Linked DNA regions of Homo sapiens: all the other regions are linked to region 1. Evidence: fine-mapped expression QTL. A gene starts in region 1. Each other region holds a variant in brackets. All regions are shown on one strand. Distances are between the middles of the regions. Region 1 holds the start of SIRPB1 (signal regulatory protein beta 1). Region 2 overlaps SIRPB1 (signal regulatory protein beta 1). Region 3 holds the start of SIRPD (signal regulatory protein delta). Region 4 overlaps LOC105372499 (a long non-coding RNA gene). Region 5 overlaps SIRPB1 (signal regulatory protein beta 1).

Region 1 (4,885 bases):
TGTTTCACACGTGACTTTGTTTTATGGATTTACTTTCTTTTCATTATCTCTATAAGGTTACTAAATATGTTAATGTTAAAAATATTTTCACATTTTATATTTTTATTTTCTGAGGTATTATTTTCTAAGATGTTATTTTCATTGCTGTTTTTGTTTTTTAGTTATTGTTTTTGAATTTATTATGATGTCGCTTTTCCCCAAATCTTTAGTGATTACTGCTTTCACTGTAATCTTTACAGGAATAATGCCCTGAGTGATCATGGGCTGTCAGCACTTTATGGAACATGGCACCTATCCCAACCTTGCTGTGGAGGCTGCGCCTAATTGACGTTATGGCTTCTTCTCTGCTTCCTTCCTGAGAGATATCTCTCCCTTCTTATGAGAGGTGTCATAGTGAAGGCCATGGAGTGTGACAACCTGTGTTCTAGTTCTAAAAGCTGGGTGATGTTGAACAAATGTATTATTGCCTGCGTGCCTCAAGTTTCCTCACCTATAAAAAAAGGTTAATGGTAGTGCTAATTTCATGGGACCAGAGTGATGAATTAATGAGGTAACTGACAAAATGCTTGGCACAGTACCTGGAGCACAGGACATCTGCAGTAAACACAGCAGCTACTACCCTTCATGTCATATAGAGACTAGTTTCTTGTTTTAAAGTGTAATTTGGCATCGATTAACATGATTTTATCATTTTTATATTCATTTCTGTGAGTGTGGAGCAGGAGGTGATGATTTCACCCTCTGTGCATCTGCCACATTGAAAAAGAAATTTGCATGGAAATGTGATGACTTTTACAATTTCATTTGACAATTACTCATGATAGGTGAAGGATTGCAAGCCCAGCATGGGAAAGAGAGGTTTCCAGACAGGTCTTTCTTAGTCACAGATGATGGAGGAGAAACCATTTCTCCTACCAAGGAAATTTTTCTAAAGCACAAGTATGTCAGGGAAGCAGTGAACTCACCCTGTACACAAATGTAATTATAGCCACAATTTTTTGGTTATAATTAAATATGAATCAAACCTTCTGTATGGCTTATATTACTCTTACCATATCACTACAAGGTGCATGTTATAACTTCCATTTACATGTAATTAAGTTAAGGCTTAGAGAAGTCAAGTGTCTTGTTGAAAGTCACACAGCTGGAGATTGTAAGAAAAGGAATTCATCTACAGATTGACAAAAAGCAGGGTGAAGAGGATCCAGAGGGAGAAATTGATCTCAGAGTGTCAGAGGTAGACCAAGTACACCATAAAAGCTGGGTTCCAGAAGTCCGGGGAACATGGGAGAAGGCCACTGGTGGGAAACTCAGCATGCAGTAGAAATCCATTTAAAAGCAATATTTGAGTTCCCTCTCTTCACCTGGCACCATGAGTATCAATAATAACCTACTGAATCTCAGGGATGTATAGTCATTATCTCTTTTGATGTTCACTAAAACATGGCAGTGAGACTTATTATCCCAAGGTTAGAAGGCAAAACTGAACCTAGGCAGGCCCAGTAACTTCCCCAACTCCTTAGCACATCTTCTTAGGGTATTTATTCTCCCTCCCTCCTCAGTTCCCATCTGAAGACAGTGATGAATGGAATAGGTGTTCTATGTGCAGAGCAAAGAGTATTGAAATCGATGTGACTGCTCCAGGAATCTGCCCTCCATATTCTCCCCCATAATAAACATATCCCCTTTCCATAACCCATAATCCCCACCTCACCTCACAAAGCAGATCCTTATTACCCTAAGCCCACTTCCTCTCCTGGAAGAAGTCAGGAAATAATTCCTTCTGCTGGGTGCAGGCATATGAAAGTGCTAACGGCCACATGAGACTGAATTTGGGCTAAGTTTTGCCATTTATATTTATAAAAGTTCGGAATAGGGAACCATTTCAAGAGCAGACCTGTTCCTCTCCAACACTGAGCAGGTCCAGTGATCCCTCATCCTGCCCCAACTGAGTAGCACTTGGTTGAGGCTGTTGTAGAATGAGACCACAAGCCAACCACATCCTGAGGTCTTGAGATGGAAAGTTTAGGAAACATTTCATAACCACAGGTCCTTCCTGGCTTAAGAGCACCAAATGGCAAATCACCAAGAAGACATAAAGATGGGGTTAGGAGTCATGGAAGGAGTTAAGACCTCAGGTGGGAAGGAAGCATTATTTCTGCTAAGCCTGTCTGATTCTCCTGAAATGGGGCATGCATAACTGCTTGCATTGTAGCTGCTTGCTGTTCCTGATTTCTGTTTCACAATCCAGAAGCAGGTTACTGCTTCACTCCATCGCAGCCACTTCCTCTTGAACTAAGGGAGGCAGGGCTTGTCTTCTCTCCTCAGAGCAGAGTCTGCGATCTTCCCAGCACAGACGTTTGGACAGAGCAGGCTCCTAAGGTCTCCAGAATGCCCGTGCCAGCCTCCTGGCCCCACCTTCCTAGTCCTTTCCTGCTGATGACGCTACTGCTGGGGAGACTCACAGGTGAGCACTGCCTTCGGTTAAAATCTTTTTTCCTGCCCACTGAGCCATGGCCTGTCCCTGGACTTTCAGGGATTCCGGACAATGACAAGTGCTGCCAAGAAAGGCCAAGGATTAGGCTTTGACTGAGAGCAGAAAATCAGGGAGCTGAGCACTTTCTCTGTGGATCTGCAGCTGGCTACCAGAGGCATTGAACCACAGGACGATTCAACCACCACAACAACAATTACTTACATTTTGATAATATTTCAATTGAAAAAGCAGAGAAGAATCATTATCTAAATCCTCACCAGTCCTGAGGCCCTAGGGCCAAGTGACATGCCCAAGTCCACAGAGTAAGCTCAGAGACACCCTAACAGGGTTATGTGGCTCTAGGCCCAGCCCTCTCTCTTCACCAAACTGAGGATGTGAAGTCTGTAATAGTGCTCACTTGAGTAGGGCAGTGGTGTGGTGTATCCTGGGAGTGTTCAGCCACCATCCTCCCTAAGGGTGCTCCTCACTTTGTCCTCTGTTCCCCCATGCTCCTCCCTCCCCTGTGACCTGATTCTTACCACCCATTTCTCTGTGGCCTCTTCCTCTTTAAGAAGTTCCACATTTGCTGCTTACTGGGTCCTATATTCCTTTCCTAGGGCTTCCATAACAAAGAACTGCAGGCTGGGTGGCTGAAACTACAGATATTTACTTCCTTGCAGTTAAGGAGGCTGAAGTCCAAGATCAAGGTGTCAGCAGGGTTAGTTTCTACTGAAGTCTCTCTCCTTGGCTTATACAGGGCCATTTTCTCTCTGTGTCTTAAACACATGATCTTCCTCTGTGTGTGTCTGTGTCCTCATCTCCTCTTCTTATGAGAATATCAGTCTTGTTGTATTAAGGCCCACCCCAATGACCTCATTTAACTAAATTACTTCTTAAAGACCCTGTCTCCCAAACTGTAACGTTCAGAGGTGCTGGGGATTAGAGCTTCAACACATGCATTTTGTGGGACACATTCAGCCCATAACAGGTACTACAACCTCCTTTGGTTCTCTTAAATTTCCCATGGATAATTTCTTTCCCCTTCCCAAGACAGGCAGGATTGGAGGGCCTTTCCTGGTGCAGCCTGGGAGAACCCTGCTCACAGCTCCCAGACAAGTTACCTGTCCTGATCCCTTCTCAGGCCATGGAGCTGACCCCAGAACCACAGGGCTGGGCACAGCAGCCTCTCAATTCCCCACTGGGCCCTGCTGTGATGTCACCTCACAGGCCCTAGAGGGCAGGGGTCTCACTTTTCAAATTATTTTTCTCACACATACACTGTACCCAAATGACAGCAGTAAGAGTTTAACAATTGAGCTCTTCCTACCATGTAGACACAGTTATTAGCATTTTGCCTGTTTTAGCTCCACTAATCCTCACAACATCCCTGTGTGAAAGCTGCAACTATTATCCCCTATTTCCAAACAAAGACTCAGGCAGAGGGAGGAACTTGTCCATTCATTGTCCCCTACCTCAGTCAGTGGAGCAGCTGAGATTCAAGTCCAGGTCGACCGGCTCCAAAGTTCATTCTTTTAGTCGTGTTATGCTACTAGCAGAAATATTAGAAAATGCAGGGAAGTAAACATAGAATTAATTATTGCCTACCACACTTGTTAGCAACAACCAGAGTTACAACTGTGATGTATGTACTTCTAAATTTGTTATTAATGTGTTGGATGCTTTCTATGGGCCACATATTTTACTTTCTATGGGCCAGATATTTTAATGAGATTTTAACGTGTGTTGTAATTTTATTTAATACACAAAACAAACTTATATACTATCACAATAGGTCACACTTTGATATATATTTGTGAATGTATATGTGTGTGTCTATATATACATATATATGTGTGTGTGTGTATATATACATATATGTGTGTGTATATATATTTGCAAATGTGTGTATACATATGTGTGTATACATATGTATATGCATGTATGCATATAAGTAAGTGTACATGCACACACAGGAGATTTCATTTTTTATCATTGTTTCTCCAAGTTTCTAATTTCAATGAAACTTTTAACAAAATATTTTATTTTTATTTGACAGAACTGTATATACTTATCATGTATACCATATTAATGAAATATGTGTACATTGCAGAATGCCTAATTTGAGCTAATTAACATATGACCTACCTTGTATATGTATCATTTCTGTGGTGAGATCTCTCAAAATCTGCTTTCAACAATTTTTGAGGTTACGAATTGTGTTATGAACTCTAGACCCCATATTGTACAATAGATTTGTGGAACTAATTTCTCCTAACTAAACTGAAATTTTGTATCCTTTGACCAATATCTCTCCAAATGCACCCCCTGCCTAGTGCCTGGTAACCAATATTCTACTATCTACTTCTATGAGTTCAACTTTTTAAAATTCCACATATGAGAGACATTATG
Region 2 (4,885 bases), 54 kb after region 1:
ACTTTTCCTTTTCTGTTTCTTCTTTTGGCTTGGGGAGGATATTTATAGCGACAAGTAGCGATGCCACTGCAATTGTCCCCAGTAACTCTGAAGTCAACTGACAATCTTTGAGTGGTTTGACCCAAATGTCTCCTTCCACATTTCAGGGTCCCACAACTTCCCCATCAGGGCCCTATCCCAGCATAGCAGCCATTGAAACTGAGATTCATGCTCCGCTGTGATTCTGCTACTCTTCTATGATGCCCAGGACCCAATTCTCTATTCCTTCTGCCCTGTGGCTCCAAGAAATAAGAATCTGCAGTGCTGCCAAGAAGTCCTCTGGCTTCCAGCTGAACTTTAACTCATGATGAATCACTCTTAGTTTCTCATTGCCTTCCTCCCAAGAGTTCATGCCCAGCAACAGCTAACACCTTAGTTCTTATAACGACCATTTCCCAATCTGTTTTCAAAAGGCTAATGGCAAGGAATTTCCTTCCTGTGGTAACACTATCCCAGTTTAGTGCCAGTGAAAGTGTTATCAATCGCAACACAACAGCAAGTCACGGCTTCTCCAGTCCCATTCACCACCAGCCCTGGGGTCCTCATTGCTAGCTGATGAGTAATCAGATTCCCAACTTATATTTTAGAGTCTTCTTTCCAGACCACTTCCCAAGGACAGTTTCTCTGGGAGGCCACCTGAGGATGCATAAAGCAATGCAGGAGGCATCCTAGAGTGCTGTCAGGGTCAACATGCCTCAGGAATGAGGAGGCAGGAGTGTAGGAGGAGGGAGGTGCTGAGCCACAGTGCAGGCAGTACAAAGATGCAGCTGCTCTTGCAGAGAGGCAAAAGGCCGGAGGGTCCTGTAGATTTTTTTCAAATTGAGGGGAAGGGCTGGCCCTTCATATTCCCAATGCAGTCTATCTCTCATGTGGGCTGCCCCTTAGAAGGAATAAACTTGGGCAGTGCAGCTCTCCTCAAAGGAGAGAAAGCCCCAGAGAGCCACCCATCTGAGAACTGCCGGCCTGCAACACTCCAACACTCCAGCGGCTATAGATGCTGAGGTCTCCATTCCTTCCTTAAGGACCCACCAGCACCATTTTATTTTAAAAAAAATTTTTTTTAATACCTTTGTTACTTTTAACATCCAAAACCCCTTATTTAAAAAATGCAAACAGTCCCAACATGAGCTTCCGTAGATCTGACTCTCTGTGTCCAACAGAAAGATTTCAGATGACATCTGCACTGGGGTTGAGGTAGGAGAGATGATGTCTGAGGCCCTTCCAAGCCCGAGGCACATTCCCTGACTCACCAGGGAATTTTCCAGCCAGCAGGTTTAATTGGGTCTTGTCCCTGGAGGGCTCCCTGAGATCATGAGAATATGGGGTCCTCTCCCTGCCCCTGGGGCTAAGAAGGGCAGCATGCAACTCTCTCACTCTGAATCCATCCTCACACCACCTGCCCACCCTTTACTAATCATTCTCATGATCCTGGAGTGTTGGACTTGTCTTGGACTCAGGAGTCACCCTTGGGGACATAATGATGGGCTTCCCTAGGTTTGGATCCTACTAATCTCCTGACACTCCCTAAACTCTCTGGCCTCAGTTTCCCCATCAGAATGGAATAATAATCCCTGCCCCATGGGCGTGTGAGGATCAAGTGAGGAACCCAGTTGCCACATATATGAATACCTGAGCACACACTCTCTCCACCTTTTCCCTCCAGGAGGATAAACTGGCAGCCTGGGACAGGGTGAGTGAGAATGAGGAGCCACTTTCCCTGGCCTTTGCTTTCGGCTGGAGTCAGGAAAGCCAGAGCAGGATGCAAGTTCAAAAGCTTCAGAGGATTGATGGGCCCAGGTAGCCTCAGATGGGGTAAGTGGAGGCCCCTGGGATGAGCTCCCAGGTGGCCCCTCTCATGGCTCCTCCTCTTCCCTGATTTCCAGAAGCAGCGCTGGCTCCTACTGCTCCACTCCTCGTAGCTCTCCTCCTGGGCCCCAAGCTGCTACTGGTGGTTGGTGTCTCTGCCATCTACATCTGCTGGAAACAGAAGGCCTGACTGTAAGTTTAGGAGAGGGAGGACTGACCAA[G/A]GGCTCCTCCAGAAAGGCAAGGCCAGCAGGAGGGCCCAGCTCACATGCCATGCAGCTTCAGGGTCAGTGGAGTTTACAGAAGGTGACAGGGCTCCCTCAGGATACTCAGGAGTCTCAGGGAACCCTGTATGGGGCTCCCAACCCCCAGGGAGTGTGCAGGAGTTGGGATGGTCAAGGGTATTACAGGAGGTGGGATGCTTCAAGGGGGTTCAAAGTTGTCCCCAGTGGCCTAGGAGTCCCATGGAAAAGGTGGACAGAGGGGTCTAAGTGAGGGCCAACTGAGTGGGTGGTCCCTTGGAGGCCACTGCTGGGACTCCATGGGTTCAAAGTAATCCCCACCGTAGTGTTGAGAATTCCCAGATAGGCTGCTCTGAGGGCTGTTCCTGCTCTGACCTTCTGTGTGCTTGAGTGGAAAGCGGGGAAGAGGGAGCATCAGGACTTGGAAGAAGTGCTGAGCTGGCAGAGTCCTATCTCAGGTCTGCCTGTCCACCCATAACAGGCATCCCAAGAGGAGACCAGCACTAGGGACATATCAGGCTCTCAGGAAACATTTCTTAAATGATGAGCAGATGAATGAATGTGGATGTGTTTTCCAACAGCTCCTTCCTTCCTTCCCTGCCATGTAGGACCCTCAGTCTCTGCTGCCTCCTCCTTTCTTGAGAAGCTCAGCCTGAGAGAAGGAGCTGGCGAGAACCTTCCCCACACTCAGCTCCAAACGCCTCCTCTCCCAGGTCATCTGCCTGCCCACACGCTCCTGTTCCACCTTCACAAGACCATGATGCCCCAAAGCAGTGTCTCTATTCACGGTCCTGAGCAGGGGCCATGGGATTGGGCTCTGGGCACTGACTCATGGCACCTCCCTAGAAGGTGAGAAACACTCCAAATCTAAACACACCAGGACTTCTCCCATCCGTCGCCTTGGGACTGGCCATAAACCACAGACTCTCTCCAGGCTCTCAAGAGTTATCCTGTCTTCTGGATTCCTGCCTACCCCAACTCCCCCAGCCTTGTTGAGGTTCTCTACTGCCTCCTGAATACACATGAACCCCTATACCAATTTTAAGAAAAAAATGATTCTCTTTCCTCTTTGTCCAAGCATCCTATCCCTCAAACCCAAAAAGAAAGAAGCTCTCCCTTCTCTCTCTGTGATGGAGACAGTATTTCTTCTAGTATCCTGCAGCCTTCCCAGTCCTGCTGCTTGTGGTAGAAATGCTGCCACAGCCCAACATTGAGGAGCCCTCGATGACTGCCCTTTACAACTCATATTCAGTTCTGCCTCCAAAATGCATGTGTCCACTTACATGAGATGGTAAATGTTTAACAATGGACTTTCTGAAAGGGAAAAACCAAAAGCTGTTTTGCAGTGCTTGCCAATTTCTCTAGTGTAATAACTCCCAACCTGACCAATTTCACACTGCCAACAGTTAAACAACCAGATTGCAAGATTCCTGAAATTTAACAATTGGTTTTCAGGGCCCAGTCCAAGCCTGCTGCTGGAAACCTCAGAGTTAAATCCCTATTCTCCACACCTCTCACCTCCACCACCCCTCCCTGTCCCAGCCAGCATCATCTCTTTGGGGACCACTCCTCTGGCTTTCATTTTTCAGCCACAGTGATTCTTTGGAAAAGTCAAATCATATCACTTCTCTGCTTCTTCCCCAACACAGCTGCATGGCTCCCGCTCTCCCTCCTTCAAGTCTCTGCTCAATGTCACTTCATTAAAGGCACCTTCTATAAACTACCTTGTATAAAATATTATTTATTTTCTCTATCCCGGCATTCTAATTTCTCTTATCCTAATTAATTTTTCTTTAGCCCTTATTTTGATGAGTATTATGCCGAATACAGGCAGCCCTCACTTTTCATGGCAGTGCAAGATTGCAAAAATGACTGTGCAACCTGAAACCCAGGAAAGCAGTCTCCATAGTCAATCAGAAAAACAATGATCATTCTGTGACCTTTACCATTTTTTGTCAAAATATTAGAAACTCTCACACTCTCAGTTACAAATGTAGAGGACAATGAAAATATAATGAAATAAATATTTATTTGTGCACTACAATTCAAAGCATTAGAAACATTGAGAGTTCAAGTGCTGTTTCTTTGTAAAAATGTATCCAGAGTAGTTGGAAGAGTGCTTGCCTTTTTTTGTATATTTCTAATATGGAGTGATATAGTTTGGCTCTGTGTCTCCATCCAAATCTCATCTTAAATTGTAATCTGCATGTGTTGTGGGATGGGCCTGGTAGGAGGTGACTGAATCATGGGGGCGGACTTCCCCCTTGCTGTTCTTGTGATAGTGAGTTCTCATAAGATCTCAGTGAGTTCTCATGAGATCTGGTTTTTTGAAAGTGTGTGGCAAGTCCCCCTTCGCTCTCTCTCTCTCTCTCCCTCCTGCCACCATGTGAAGAAGGTGCCTGCTTCCTTTTCTCCTTCCACCATGGTTGTAAGTTTCCTGAGGCCTCCCAGTCATGCTTCCTGTTAAGCCTGTGGAACTGTGAGTCCAATTAAACCTCTTTTATTCATAAAATATCCAGTTTCTGGTAGTTCTTTATAGCAGTGTGAGAATGGGCTAATACACGGAGCAAGCATTGTTTCTTTTCATTTGTTTATTTTATTTTTATTTTTTTGAGATGGAGTTTCACCCTTATTGCCCAGGCTGGAGTGCAATGTCGTGATCTTGGCTCACTGCAACCCCCGCCTCCAGGGTTCAAGTGATTCTCCTGCCTCAGCCTCCTGAGTAGCTGGGATTACAGGCATGTACCACCACACCCAGCTAATTTTGTATTTTTAGTAGAGATGGGGTTTCTCCATGTTGA
Region 3 (4,885 bases), 61 kb after region 1:
CCCCGTGGGGAACAATGCAAGGAAATGTGCGGTAGGGAGACTTTGTTGATATTCCAAAGTTTTATCTCACTTCAAAAGCCTGAGGTTTCCTTTCCTCTCGTCCTTCCTCTGTCCACTACCAGAGCTCACCCCAGATCTAGGCACTCAGATCCCAGAGGAAGTGGCTTCTCAATCCCCCGTGATGCTCACCCTAAACTTTTCCCATTAGTAAAATCCAGGTCAGACCAAGTGGGATCAGAAAACTTTGGGTTATGTGGGTGAGCTGGGATAGCTTTGAGGACCTGACTATGAGTGAGTGAATAATGTCCTGAGCCCAAGTCTTCACAGGAACAAGTTGTTCCCATGAATTGTGTAATGGATGCTGAGAGGCACCTGGCTGTGGAGATGGTCCTCAGCATCAGCTCTATTTGCGATTGTCTCAGCTGAAGGGAGTGCCCTTGCTTAGGTCGTATCTGGTAACAAACCACATCTCATTGGACTCATCAACCTAGTCGTATAAAGGCCCAGCTCTCTTATCCTAACTCAGAGCAACTCTGGAGGAATATCCTAGTACCAGGCTCCATGCAAGGTCAGCTGAGGTCTTCAATGGGACTTCATTGCAGCCCAGCTTCTTCTTCTACCCAGTCCTGCTTCCATCTTCTCCCGTCCACAAGTGTTGATCCTAAAAGTACTCCCTGAAAGATAACCTGCTTGTTCATCTTCACCCCAGAGTCTGTCTCCCAGGGAACCCAACCTGGGACAGTGAAGCTATGCTACGTATCAGAAAGGTGGGGATCCCTTCATCTCTAAGGGAGCAAGTCAGTCACAGAAGAAAGCCTTGTTTATAGTACCTCCAGATTAATGAGAATCCACAAAAATGTTTATTCAAGAGAGGGACATAATTAAATCTATGTTGTAAAAAGACCAGTCTGGCTGAAGAAGGAGAAAGAGATTATAGGGGGCAAATAAAAATGGGGGTACCCTAGTGAGAAGGCAATTGTTCTTATTCAGGCAAGAGATGATGATAGAGATGGAGAAAGAGATTAATTCAGAAGGGATTTAGGAGGTAAATCCAATAGGGCCTGGTAGGGGCAAGATAGGAGTGTGAAACTATGCCCCCAAAGAGTTAAAGAAACCAGTCACTAAGAAATTCTTGAGTTTACAGGATAGCAGATAAGAAAAAAAAAAAATTGCTAAACTGCCGAAACTTCCTCCACTTGTAGGATAACAAAACTGACTAAAATCTGTTGGAACCAATATGGCCAACTGGAGTTTGCTCAGAATGAGCTTGCTGATGTCACAGCCTGAGTTTCTACCACGTATTTCATGATGACGCCCCAGGGTTTTGCACATGGGAGCCGTGAAGAGGCATAGAGAGATAACTGTACATGCCCAAGGACTTTCCAGACCTCCCCTTTCCTTTCACAAATCACATACTAATCCCAGAATCCAACCCCTAAACTTTTGCTAATAAAACTACTGCCTTGAAGCCAGCACATGGAGCTAGATTTGAGGTAGACTTCTGTCTTCCTGTTAGTCAACTTGCAATAAAAAGCTTTTCTTTTCTCAAAAGCCTGGTGTCACAGTATTGGCTTCTAGCACATCAGGCAGCAACCCCCTTTCACTTGGTAACAAGTGGATAAGTGAGGGTATAGAACATGAGTCCCTTCCTGGTTTGACAAACTGCTTAGATGATGGTACCATATACAAAACAGGCATGGTGTGGGAGAAGATAAGGTTTGTGAGTGCAGATCTGAAACTCAAACTTGAATATTTAAGGTATACAAAGAGGCCAGGCTCAGTGGCTCACACCTGAAATCCCAGCACTTTGGGAGGCTGAGGCAGGTGGATCATCTGAGGTCAGAAGTTCGAGACCAGCCTAACCAATATGGTGAAACCCTGTCTCTATTAAAAATACAAAAATTAGCCAGGCGTGGTGGTGGGCGCCTGTAGTCTCAGCTACTCGGGAGGCTGAGGCAGGAGAATCACTTGAACTCGGGAGGCAGAGGTTGCAGTGAGCCGAGGTCATACCATTGCACTCCAGCCTGGGCAACAAGAGCGAAACTCTGTCTCGAAAAAAAAAATACATATATATATATATATACAAATGAAGATGTCAAGAAGGTTGCAGAATATACAGGTCTGTATCATGGGCCCAAGATTACTCAGCTCTTAGGAGGTGCGTTCAGGATTCTAGCCTAGATTATATCTGATTCCAAAGCTGGCACTCTTGGATACTGACCCGTGAGTACTGACTCTCCAAGGAACTTAGAGTCTAATGAAAGGTGAGAAGATTCCTCAGAGTAGGGGAAGGGGAGGATGATGGAGGCTGGAGGAATGTTCCTGTCTAGTTCCAAGCAGGGGCCATGGATAGGAATTCCTTTGTGGAATTCATCATTTCAGAACAACGGGATAGGATGATGACATCACAAGGGGATGGGGACTCTTGTCGTCTCAGAGAGAACGTGCCAGCCTGGCTCTGCTTTCTTTTCCTAGAGGGTCTAACACCTCTCCCGGCCCTGACATCTAGCTGGTTCCTGAGGAGGAGGCAGAAGTCATGAGGAGGCAATGGGGAAACAGCCATGGCAGCCAGTGCCTGCCTGTGGATGCTTGGACATTAAAGGGTCACCAGCTGAGTGTGGGCTGAGTGTCCCTGAACACAACATTTGTGCTTAGGAAGAACCCATTCCAGAGCTGAGAGAGAAGGATGCCAACATGCT[G/A]CTTCCTCCCTCTTTCTGGGGGCATTTCTTCTGCCCCTCCAATCCCATCTCTGAGAGCTGGTCCCAGGTCCAGCCCAAGCAGGAGAGGCAGCCCTCACCTTCCCAGGTGTTTGTAGGCATGTTACTCTCCCTCCTAGAGAGTGTTCCCCGCAGCTCCGCCTTCCCTGCAGGCCTCCTCCATCCTCTAAAGCACAAATCATCACCACCTGCACAACTCGAATGTCTTTCTCAGCCATGCCTGATTCCTCTGCAGGAAGGAAAAAGGAAGCAGTTCCTGGTAGTGTATGGAGGGACCCACAGAAAAGCCAAGAGCCCACAGCAGATATTGCTTGTTTTTTACCTCTAACTACTCTGGAGTGCAAGAAAGGGCATCCATTGTAAAGTCCAACTCTTACCAAGTGGGTGAGGCTATAGACATCTTGTCTCTTTCTTCAGCTGTGCAGCTCAGACAGGCCCAGATGTTGAGCTCATGCAGGAGCTAGACCCATACCTGCGCATCATGTGGATGAGGCCTTTGTCTAGCCTATGTGTCTGAGGCTCCTAGATAGGCAAAGGCCATGAAGTTGGGGAGAACCTGTGAGATGGGATGAAACTCAGGAAGGAGTATAAGGCTGTGGGTGTCAAGCCCCCCAGCCCCAGCAAAGCTAAATACTTCCAGCAGCAACTTCCTAGCTTGAAGCAACCTTGTCTGTTCAATTTTATAATCACAAAGGAAAAAGTGTCCCAGTCCCCTGGCCTTTCCTCTCATCACAATCCCCTTCCTCTGACATCACAGAGGCAAGAACTGTCTTCTCTGCTCGGAGCACTGAGTCGAGGGCATCTCCAGGACAGGCATTCAGGCAGAGCAAGCTCCAGGTTTCACCACAATGCCCATCCCTGCCTCCCCACTCCACCCACCTCTGCCTTCCTTACTGCTGTATCTGCTGCTTGAACTGGCAGGTGAGTGGGGCCTCAGTGTATGTGTGTGGTGGGTTCTCCCCTCTGCCTGTTTAGTGAACTCTCCCTCACCTGTTCCCATAGAATTTCTTTTGGGAGGGTTTTCTCCATCTTATCCCAGAACAGGCAGAACTCAGAAGACTACACTGGGATGGTCCCCAATTCTGACAAAGTCTCCCGGTGGCCATGTCTGTTGCAAATCTCTTTGCTCAGGTAAACGACTCACACCTATGGTCACAGGGCGGGGCACAGCATCCATCACAGCTCTCACCCTCCAGCCTCTGGAGGGTGTAATTTATTTTATTTTATTTTTACCTTTACTTATTTTTTTGAGACAGGGTCTCACTCTGTCACCTAGGCTGGAGTGCAGTGGTGCGATCTTGGCTCACTACAACTTCCACCTCCTGGGCTCAAGTGATTCTCGTGCCTCCAACTCCCAAGTAGCTGGGACTACAAGCACGCGCCACCATGCCCAGCTAATTTTTGTCTTTTTTGTAGAGATGGGGTTTCACCATGTTGCCCAGGCTGGTCTCAAACTTATGAGCTCAAGAGTTCCACCTGCCTCGGCCTCCCAAAGTGCTCGCATTATAGGCGTGAGCCACCACACCTGGCCCCTGGCAGATTTTACACTTCTTTCTGTGAAATTCAGTTTTTTATTTCTCTGTTGCCACTGCATTTGGCTGCTCTTAAAAAGTACTGCAAACTGGGTGGTTTAAATTACAGAAATTAATTTTCTCACAGGTCTGGAGACTAGATATTCAAAATCGAAGTGTGGGCAGGGTTGGTTCTTTCTGAGGACTGTGAGGTTGAATCTGTTCCATGTCTGTCTCTGAGCTTCTAGCAGTGGTAGCCTCAAACATTTGTTGGATGGCAGGTGGCACCACCCTCCCTGTATCCTCACATCATCTTACTCCCATGTATGTCTGTCTCTGTGTCCAAATTTCCACTTCCTATAAAAACATCCACCATATTGGATTAGCACCCACCTCAATGACCTCATTTTAACTTGATTTCCTCTGTAACTCTATTTCCAAGTAAGGTCACATTCTGAGCTACTTGTGGTTAAGACTTCAACATATATTTCGGAGGCATACAATTCAACTCATAATAGCCTCAACATGAAATTTTAATAACTTAGATATATTCTTTGTTGGTTTATGTACTGCATTTATATCTGTCTGTGCTTTATACATAGGAAGGGTAACTATAAAGCTTCCTCTTTTTATTCAATGGAGAGTTAAGGATGACTA
Region 4 (4,885 bases), 92 kb after region 1:
AGACCATCCTGGCTAACACGGTGAAATCCCATCTCTGCTAAAAAAAAAACAAAACATTAGTCGGGCGTGGTGGCGGGCGCCTGTAGTCCCAGCTACTTGGGAGGCTGAGGCAGGAGAATGGCGTGAACCCAGGAGGTGGAGCTTGCAGTGAGCCGAGATGGCACCACTGCACTCCAGCCTGGGCGACAGAGCGAGACTCCATCTCAAAAAAAAAAGATAAACAGAGCATCAATCAGCAGCTATGGGGAAATTTCAAGTGGCCTAATAGATATGTATTGGAGACACCAGTGGAAGAGGGGACAGAAAGAATATTTGAAGAAATAATGGTCACATATGTTCCAAATATGATGAAAACTGTAGACCCACAGATCCAAAAACTCGATGAACCCCAAGCACAAACCAAGTTGCACAAACCAATAAAGAAAATATCTTAAAAGCAGCCCCCCAAAAAGAAATATTAAATACAAAAGAACAAAAAATACAGGAGACTTTTCATCAAAAATAATGCAAGCTTAAGACAGTGGGGATACATCTTTAAAGCTTTTTTTCTTTTTTTTTTGAGACAGAGTTTCACCCTCATCACCCAGACTGGAGTGCAGCGGCGCGATCTCGACTCACTGCAACCTCCGCCTCCCAGATTCAAGCAATTCTCCTGCCTCACCCTCCCGAGTAGCTGGGATTACAGGCACCTGCCATCATGCCTGGCTAATTTTCGTACTTTTAGTAGAGACAAGGTTTCACCATATTGACCAAGCTGGTCTCGAACTCCTGACCTCAGGTGATCCACCCTCCTCGGCCTCCCAAAATGCTGGGATTACAGGCATGCCCCACGATGCCTGGCTATTTAAAGCATTTTTAAAAAGAAAACAATAATTAATTAGTCATTCTAGAATTTTTACCTAGCAAAAATATCTTTTAAAATAAATACATAAAATTAAGCATTTAATTTATTTATCTATTTTTTGAGCCAGTCTTGCTCTGCCATCCAGGCTGGAGTTAAGTACTCACTTTGGCAGCACAGATACTAAGAGTGAAATGATACAGAGATTAGTATGGCCTGTGTACACGGATGGAATGCAAATTTGTGATGCATTCCATATATTTTCCCAGTTTTGCTAGATGGAAAGCATTCTAGAGATGTATAGTGGTGATGGTTGCACAACAATGTGACTCATGCCACTGAAACTGTACTCTAAATGTGTACTCAATGCCACTGAACTGTACACTAAAAAATGGTTAAGATGGCAGATCTTATGTGTACTTTACCACAATTTTTGAAGTGAAGAATAAAGATTTTATCAATCATACAAAAGCTGAAAGAATTCATCATCAACAGATCTGCACTACAAGAAATGTTAAAAAGAAGTCCTTCCAACAGTAGTGAAATGATACCAGATGGAAACCTGGATATATACAAAGAAATTAAAAGCAAGAGAAATAGTAACAATGTGGGAAAATATTTTAAAAGTATATTTAAATGTACTTAAAACATAGCTGTTCAAAGCAAATACAATAATAATATATTTGACAAATTATAACATACATGGAAGTAAAATGTGTGAGAAAAATAGCACAAAGACCAGGAAGAGAGACACAGAAATATATTACTGTAAGAATTTTATGCTATGTGTGAAGTGATACCTTATCACTCATGGTAAATAATGATGAGTTAATAATGTATGCCAGAAATCCCAAAACAACCAGTAAAATAACACAACAAAGAGTAATAGCTAATAAACTGACAAAAGACATAAATCAGAATCATAAAAATCAATCCAAAAGAAGACAGAAAATGAGGTACACTGGAAAAGAGATGAGGCTAGTAAGTAGCAAGATCATAGATTTAGACCTAGTCATATAAATAATCATATTAAATGTAAATGGTTTAAACACACCAATTAAAATAAAGTGATTTTTGCATTATATTTTTTAAAGTAGGATCCACTATTTGCTGCCTGCAGAGAATTGATTCTCTTCAAAAATAAAGGCACAAATAGATTAAAAATAAAAGGACAGAAAAATATATGCAACATCAACAATAATTTTTTAAATATGGAATGCCTACATTAATATCAAAGTGTATTTAGAACAAAGAAATTATGAGAACATAGAATATCATTTATAATAAGCTTATCAATTAATAAAATATACCAATTCTAAATGTTGATGCATATAATAATAGAGTTTCAAAATACATAAAACAAAACTCATGGAATTGCAAGAATATATAGAAAAATCTACAATTATAGTCAGATCTCAAAACCTCTCTTTCAATAATTGGTAAAAAAAGGAGGCAGAAAATCAGTAAAGATGTAGAAGACTTGAACAGCACTATAAGCCAACTTGAGCTAACTGATACTTATAGAATGCTCCATCCCAAAACAAGAGAATACACATTCTTTTTAACTACAAAAGAAACATTTACCAACATAGATTGTATTCTCAGCCATAAATAAGTCTCAGTAAGTTTGAAATAAATCAAGTCATGAGAAGTGTGTTTTCTGACCACAATGGAATTAAATTTATTTATTTATTTTTAATTTTATTTAATTTAACCCTCAGTAGTCATAGAAATTAAATTTAAAAAGCAAACATCTCTAGAAAATCTCCAAACATTTTAAAACTAAATATACTTCTGAATAATACATTATTGAAAAAGAAATC[G/A]GAAGAAAAATTAGAAAGTATTTTGTATATGTATGTATGTATGTATTTATTTATTTATTTGAGACAGGGTCTCACTCTGTCCCACAGGCTGGAGTGCAGTGGCACAATCACGGCTCACTGTAGTCTCAACCTCTCGGGCTTGGGTGATCCTCCCACCTAAGCCTCCTGAGTAGCTGGGACTACAGGTGCACTCCACCCTGCCCAGCTAATTTTTGTATTTTTTTGTAGAGACTGAGTTTTGCTGTGTTGCCCAGGTTGATCTCAAACTCCTGAGCTCAAGTGATCTGCCTGCTTCAGCCTCCCAAAATGCTGGGGTTACAGGCATGAGCCACCACTCCTGGCTTAGAAAATATTTTTAACTGAATGAAAATGAAAGCATAGCATACCAAATTTGTGGCATGCAGCCAAAAGAGTACTTAGCAGGAAATTCATAGCACTAAATCCCTATATTAGGACAGAAGAAAGGTTTTTTTCAGAGACTTCAAAAAGTAGGAAAAAATGAAGAAAGGAAATAATAAGGAACACAGCAGAAATCAGAAACATAAAATGAAAAAATATAGAAAAAATCAATAAGAGCAAAAGCTGGTTCCTTGAGAAAATTCATAAAATTAATAAATCCATATCCACACAGTTAATCAGGAAAAAAGAAAGAAGATACAAATTACCAATATCAATAATGAGAGAGGTGACACTACTACAGACTCCACAGATATTAAAAAGATTATAATGGAACTTTATGAAAAACTTTATACCAATAAACTTAACAACTTTGATGAAATGGACAAATTCTTTGAAAGACATAGACTGCTAAAGCTCACTCAAGAAGAAATAAATAGGCTAATTATCGCTATATCTATTAAAGAAATTAAATTTGTAGTTTAAAAAGCCTCTGACAAAGAATAATTCAGACCCAGATGACTTCACTGAGGAATTCTATCAAACAATTGAGGAAGAAGTACTAACAATTTTACTCAAATTATTTCAGAAAATTAAAGAGGAAGTGAGGCTTCCCATTCTGTGAGGCCAGCATTACAGATAAAGAATCATAGAAAAGCAAAACTATAGATCAATATCCCTCATGAACAGAAAATTATTATAGAGCTATAGTAATCATACAGTGTGGTATTGGCATCAAGATAGACAAGTGGGGGGGAGGGATAGCATTAGGAGATATACCTAATGCTAAATGATGAGTTAATGGGTGCAGCACACCAACATGGCACATGTATACATATGTAACAAACCTGCACATTGTGCACATGTACCCTAAAACTTAAAGTATAATAATAATAAAATAAAATAAATTAAAAAATAAAAAAAGAAAAGAAAAAAAAGACAAGTGGATCAATGGAACAGAATAGAGATTCTAGAAATAGACTCATACATATGGTCAATTGATTGCTTAAAAAAAAAGTATGAAGGCAAGTCAGTGGAAAAAGAAGAGACTTTTCAACTGTGGTGTTGGATCATTTGAAGAGTTAATAGACCAATGGAACAGCATAGAAAAATCCAGAAGTGTATCTATCTAGTTCCTCCCACCATACACCAAAATAAATTCCAAGTGGATCAGAGATTTAAATGTAAGAAACGAAACTATTTAAGTACTAGAAGAAAACATATATATATATATATTCTTTTATAACCTAGAAATGGAGAAAACCTTCCCAACTGTAACTCAAAATGCAGAAAGATTTAAAAGATTATAATTTTGATCGCATTGTACAAAAAGAAACTTGTGTATAGGTGTGTGTACTATTTTGCGATTTACATCGTAGACAAAAAATAATCCCTAATATAGAGAAAGCTTCTAAAATTTTAGAAGACAGTCAACCTTTTAGAATTATGGGCAATAAATGGGAAAAGACAAGTTATAGAAAATGAAATACAAATGTTTCAAACATATAAAAATACGCTCAACCACCCTTGTATAGGAAGAAATGCAAATTAAAAACTACACTGAGACACGGTTTCTCACCTATCTGCTTGACCAAAAATCCAAAAGTTCAACAGCACGTTCTGTTGGGGAAGCTAAGGCGAAACAATTACTCCATATTTTGCTGTTAGGAATGCAAAACCATATAACTCATAAAGAGGTGAACTTGGCAATATCTAGCAAAATTACCTCGTGACCCAACAATTCAACTTCCAGAAATGTATCCCAAAGATCTACTAACACAAGTGCAGGATGACTTATCCTTAGGCTCTTCATCACAACACTATT
Region 5 (4,885 bases), 49 kb after region 1:
GTGCTCTCACATTATTTCACGCATATCAGGGAGCAAGTTAATATTGGCAAAGTCAAACGTATAATATGTGCTTTCTAAGAGGACGGCAGAAGGTTCAAGGTAACAATTAGCAATTTGCAGACACCCTTAAAATTCATCTACATGGAGAAACTGCACTCGTTGTTCTGATTCTCCAATGTGTTTGCTTTCAAGGCCCAGAATAGGTTTCTGTCTGTTGGTGTGGCCTGGGTCTTTGTCTCTTGTAATTAATTAACGATGAAAAAGCTAACCACCTTTGGCTTTCTTAGTACTCAGTGATCCTTGTTTTTCACCCAAACCTGTCCTAACTGAAGATTCAGATTCCCAAAAATTTCCTCTTTTCAAATTTAGGACTTCCAGCAGATTAGAACAACTAACAACAACAGCAAAATGATTGTTAGGAAGGCCAAAGGAAATAGCATTTATCTGAAAGATAAAGAGGTGCAATTTGGGTACACTGAGTCAGTGAAACCCTGAATAGTGTCCCGTATGGCAATACAGGACAGGTTTTTTATAGGGGATTTTCACAAAAGGTTGTTTTTGGAAACAGTTCATTAGCTGGTTGAAAATCCTCAACTGCAAACCCACTCTCATTGGTTATTTCATTAAAGTACTCCAGGTGAAAGAGATCAAAATCCCACGGACCCTGGCTTCAGTTGTTATCCAGGTCTATCTACTGCAACATCCTGTGGCTTGACCTTTAGCAGGTGTGATTCCAATGCTCTTACAAACTCTTGGCTCTACGTTAAAGCTTTATCCTTAATTAATGCCTTTTATTTGACAGAACGAAATATTTGTGAAAAGAAAAATACGGAATGTTTCATATTTTTATAATACCTAAAGAGAGACCTCTGTGTATCTGTAAAGTCTGGGTTAAAGATAGATCTGTGTTTTTTGGGGGAAGCATCTTCTGTGTTTGATCCAGAGCAAAACTGCTTCCATTGCCCCATTGAATCCTGGCGACATCCCAGGAAGTAGAAACGCCGTCCTCCGTCCTCCTGTTTTGCGGATGAGGAGCTGGGGTTGTCAGCCCACCCCTGTCCTGGGCTGAGCAGCCTGGTTGCAGCTCTCACGGTGGTGCCACTTTGCCATTGATCCCTGTATTGGCTTCTATAAATGCCCTCTCTGAGGTTAGTGAGCCTTCCGGGGGAGGACAGCTAGGACCAGTTAATAACATGGAGGGAGACCAATCAGTAATTTTGTTCCTATGCCCAGATTGGTGGAAGTCTCCCTGTGTGGAGAGGACTTTGAACTCAGGCCTGGACTTCCCTCTGGGCCCTGCCCCTACTCACTGTCTGACCATGGCCTGGTTCTCACCTCTAAGAGCTGTTGTGTCCTGATCTGTAAAATGAGAATAAGGACACTGCCTTCACGACATTATTAGAAAGATTAAAAACTAACGTCTCAGAAGGTTCTTAACATGTCAAACGCTTATCATCAGTGATGGTCATCTGAGTCATGTCTCCTGATTATCGATGGTCCTTTTGTAGCCAAACCCTCTGCCCCCGTGGTATCGGGCCCTGCGGTGAGGGCCACACCTGAGCACACAGTGAGCTTCACCTGCGAGTCCCATGGCTTCTCTCCCAGAGACATCACCCTGAAATGGTTCAAAAATGGGAATGAGCTCTCAGACTTCCAGACCAACGTGGACCCCGCAGGAGACAGTGTGTCCTACAGCATCCACAGCACAGCCAGGGTGGTGCTGACCCGTGGGGACGTTCACTCTCAAGTCATCTGCGAGATAGCCCACATCACCTTGCAGGGGGACCCTCTTCGTGGGACTGCCAACTTGTCTGAGGCCATCCGAGGTAGAAGACCCTCACACCCAGCCCAAGCCCACACCTGGCTGCCAAGCCCACTCCCCTCTCCCCAGGCTCCAGAGCTTGAAAGGCCTGGAATCTAATTCCTAACTGTGTTGTCCACCTCCCATGCACCTAGGTGAGCCGGTCACTTACTATCATTTTAATGGCAGCTGTCAGGGGACCAGCAACCATGTGCCAAGCTCTGGGCTACAGAGTTTCATTTATTTCACCAAGAGCAACTACAATTAGTGAGCACCTACTAGGAGCCAAATCACTATGTGCTCGGCGATTTCACTGATTTTGCTACAGTTCTTACATTCCAACTGCATGCCAGGGGTTGTGCTTGTAGATTTCACTCATCCTTAGCCTAGCAGCAGCTAACAGTCCTTGGGCACCTACTGTGCGCCAGGCACTGTGCTTAGTAATTTCACTCATATGCAACGAGTGCCCTCAATGTCTGAGCACCTGCTGCCTGCCTAGCACTGTCCTGGTGATGCCCTCACTGTGTTGGTGGGAGCTACGTTATTTAGCCCTCCCTGTGATCTGTCTGTGCCACAAGATCAGAGCTTCTGCCCTGTGCTGTTTCAGTTCCACCCACCTTGGAGGTTACTCAACAGCCCATGAGGGCAGAGAACCAGGCAAACGTCACCTGCCAGGTGAGCAATTTCTACCCCCGGGGACTACAGCTGACCTGGTTGGAGAATGGAAATGTGTCCCGGACAGAAACAGCTTCGACCCTCATAGAGAACAAGGATGGCACCTACAACTGGATGAGCTGGCTCCTGGTGAACACCTGTGCCCACAGGGACGATGTGGTGCTCACCTGTCAGGTGGAGCATGATGGGCAGCAAGCAGTCAGCAAAAGCTATGCCCTGGAGATCTCAGC[G/A]CACCAGAAGGAGCACGGCTCAGATATCACCCATGGTGCGGTTACTTCCCATTTTTAAATTTTGTCTTTTTCTTTAATGTTAAAAGCAATATTCATGCTTGTCATAAAATAAGCTAGAAGTCTATAAATATAAAGTAGAATTTTAACGTCTACATTAAAATCCTACACTCCATGGGTCACCACTACTTAGAAGGTTCAAGGTAACAATTGGCCATTTGTAGACACCCTTAAGCCCCATCTACCAGGAGAAACTGTGCGTCAAGTCTGATGCACAACTTGATAGATATTTTGACATAAATATACATTAAAGGAAAAAAGAGAGAGGGAGGTGATCCGTTTGTTTATGAAGTCCTGTGTCTCGCCTTCTTCTGCATTTCTCGCCAGCACAGCACCTTGCCTTTTACACTTTCTAACCTCTACCTTGTCCCTATTCTATCCTAAACTTTTCCATCCGCATCTGTGACCTCAGCCACCAGTCTCCAGCATCTGCTCTATAAATTTCAGAAAGACAAGTGAAGTTTAAGCCTGGACAGACCCCCAGGTGACCTGGTCACAGCACAGGCTTCTTTTGTGTTCTGATGGTGATATTTGACCAACAATAATCACAACCACTCTGCACATTTACTATATGCAAATTTCTGTTCATCTCTGATCTCCTTTCCTGCTTCAAACACCCAGTGAGCTTGGAGTTTTACCAAAGGGGAAACCAGGACTTAGGAAGTAATGAGGGATGTTGTTGAAGACTTCTTGTCATTAGACCAGGTTATTGGTCCAAAGTAATGAAGGTAAATCTAGTCCCTGAGGACAGGCTCACTACCAGGCTATAATGGGAATTTGTGCTAATTAGAGAAACTTTCCCTTTCTGCTGCGCTTTGTCCCAAGGACCCAAATTTGGCCAGTGTTCCCCCTCTCTATAACCAAAATATGTCTTATTTCCCTCTCTTTTAATACCAGGAGGGGTCCCTCTACTCCAGTCGAAAGACAATCTTTGAGTGCTTTGACCCGAATACATCCTCCCACATCTCAGGGTCCCACAACTTCCCCATCAGGGCCCAACCCCAGCATAGAAGCCATTAAAGCTGACATTCAACATCCTTTGTGATTCTGCTACTCTTCTAATGATGGCTGGGGCCCAATCTTCTATTCTTTCTGCCCTGAGGCTCCAGGAAATAAGAATAAGGACTCAGGTTCCTTCCAAAACACCCTATGATGTTTGCGTCATCTCCTGGGTCAGTGCTGAGTCACGGATTTGTTCATGTCCCTGCCTGCCAGAAGAGGAAAGACACGAAATAGAAGACAAACAATGTCCCCAATCATCAGAGATGTGTGGAAGGTGCATAGTCACGTCCACTGAAAACTTGCTCACGCATGCACCTGCAGTTGCACATTGAGGGATCATGTGATCAAGGACATTTTTCACAAAACCAGTGTCATTGTCCACTTAAATTTTAAGTGTTCAAATCACTAAATTTCATAAAGTTATTAAAATAATTTCCTCATATCATCTAAAATGGAGCATACATTCACATTTTACCAAATTTTTTAGAACCATTTTCCTGTGTGTTAAATTTGGTTTTAATTTATCTTTAAATGCTTGTGTTTTCCTTTGAAAGATCTGGGCCCCAGGGATATTTTTGGATATTTTATAATCATAGATTCAATGTCGTTAATAGTTTAGGGTTATTCACATTTTTCGTTTCCTATTGAGTGAGCCCTGGTAAGTTGTGTTTTGCATAACTTTTGGTCCATTTCATCTAAGTTGTCATATTTATGTGTGTAGAGTTGTTCATAATATCCTCTCATAACCCTTTTGGTGTCTGCAGGGTCTGCAATGGTATCCCACGTTTCATCCTGATACTAAAAATGTGTCATTTCTCTTTTCTTTTTCATCAGTCATGCTAGAGTTTTTTCCCATTTTATTGGTGTTTTCAAAAGATTGACTCTTTGTTTCAATGGGTTTTTGTATTGTTTTTGTGTTTTCAGTTTCATTAATTATCTGCTCTCTTCTCTCTTTTTTTTTTTAAATTAATTCCTATCTCCTGCTTTCTTTGGGTTTACTTTGCCCTACTTTTTGTAGTTTCTTTAAGTGCGGGATTTATATTTATTGACTTGAGACCTCCTCTTTTCTATGTCCTCCCTTCATCACTTTCTGTGGCTGGGGGCTGGTATTTGGGCATAG

The links. PIP is the estimated chance that this variant, and not a neighbour inherited with it, causes the effect.
Region 2: its variant is fine-mapped to the expression of SIRPB1 in whole blood (TOPMed, PIP above 0.99).
Region 3: its variant is fine-mapped to the expression of SIRPB1 in whole blood (INTERVAL, PIP above 0.99).
Region 4: its variant is fine-mapped to the expression of SIRPB1 in whole blood (INTERVAL, PIP above 0.99).
Region 5: its variant is fine-mapped to the expression of SIRPB1 in memory regulatory T cells (Schmiedel 2018, PIP 0.92).

The regions. Positions count from the first base shown.
Region 1 is chr20:1,617,451-1,622,335 of GRCh38, reverse strand. SIRPB1 (signal regulatory protein beta 1) reads left to right here and starts at 2,327. Exons shown (of 6, transcript NM_006065.5): 1 at 2,327-2,467. The coding sequence starts at 2,392.
Region 2 is chr20:1,563,305-1,568,189 of GRCh38, reverse strand. SIRPB1 (signal regulatory protein beta 1) reads left to right here. Exons shown (of 6, transcript NM_006065.5): 5 at 1,923-2,037; 6 at 2,693-4,885. The coding sequence ends at 2,035. Among named protein-coding and RNA genes, the nearest start is that of SIRPD, 8.0 kb to the right of the region's middle. The variant G/A (reference allele first, on the strand shown) is at 2,067.
Region 3 is chr20:1,556,334-1,561,218 of GRCh38, reverse strand. SIRPD (signal regulatory protein delta) reads left to right here and starts at 3,514. Exons shown (of 4, transcript NM_178460.3): 1 at 3,514-3,638. The coding sequence starts at 3,566. LOC107985409 (a long non-coding RNA gene) reads right to left here and starts at 3,212. Exons shown (of 3, transcript XR_007067493.1): 1 at 3,095-3,212; 2 at 554-674. The variant G/A (reference allele first, on the strand shown) is at 2,700.
Region 4 is chr20:1,525,275-1,530,159 of GRCh38, reverse strand. All of the region lies in intron 2 of LOC105372499 (a long non-coding RNA gene), which reads right to left. It also overlaps the pseudogene RNU6-917P. Among named protein-coding and RNA genes, the nearest start is that of SIRPD, 30 kb to the left of the region's middle. The variant G/A (reference allele first, on the strand shown) is at 2,665.
Region 5 is chr20:1,568,661-1,573,545 of GRCh38, reverse strand. SIRPB1 (signal regulatory protein beta 1) reads left to right here. Exons shown (of 6, transcript NM_006065.5): 3 at 1,509-1,826; 4 at 2,409-2,741. Among named protein-coding and RNA genes, the nearest start is that of SIRPD, 13 kb to the right of the region's middle. The variant G/A (reference allele first, on the strand shown) is at 2,707.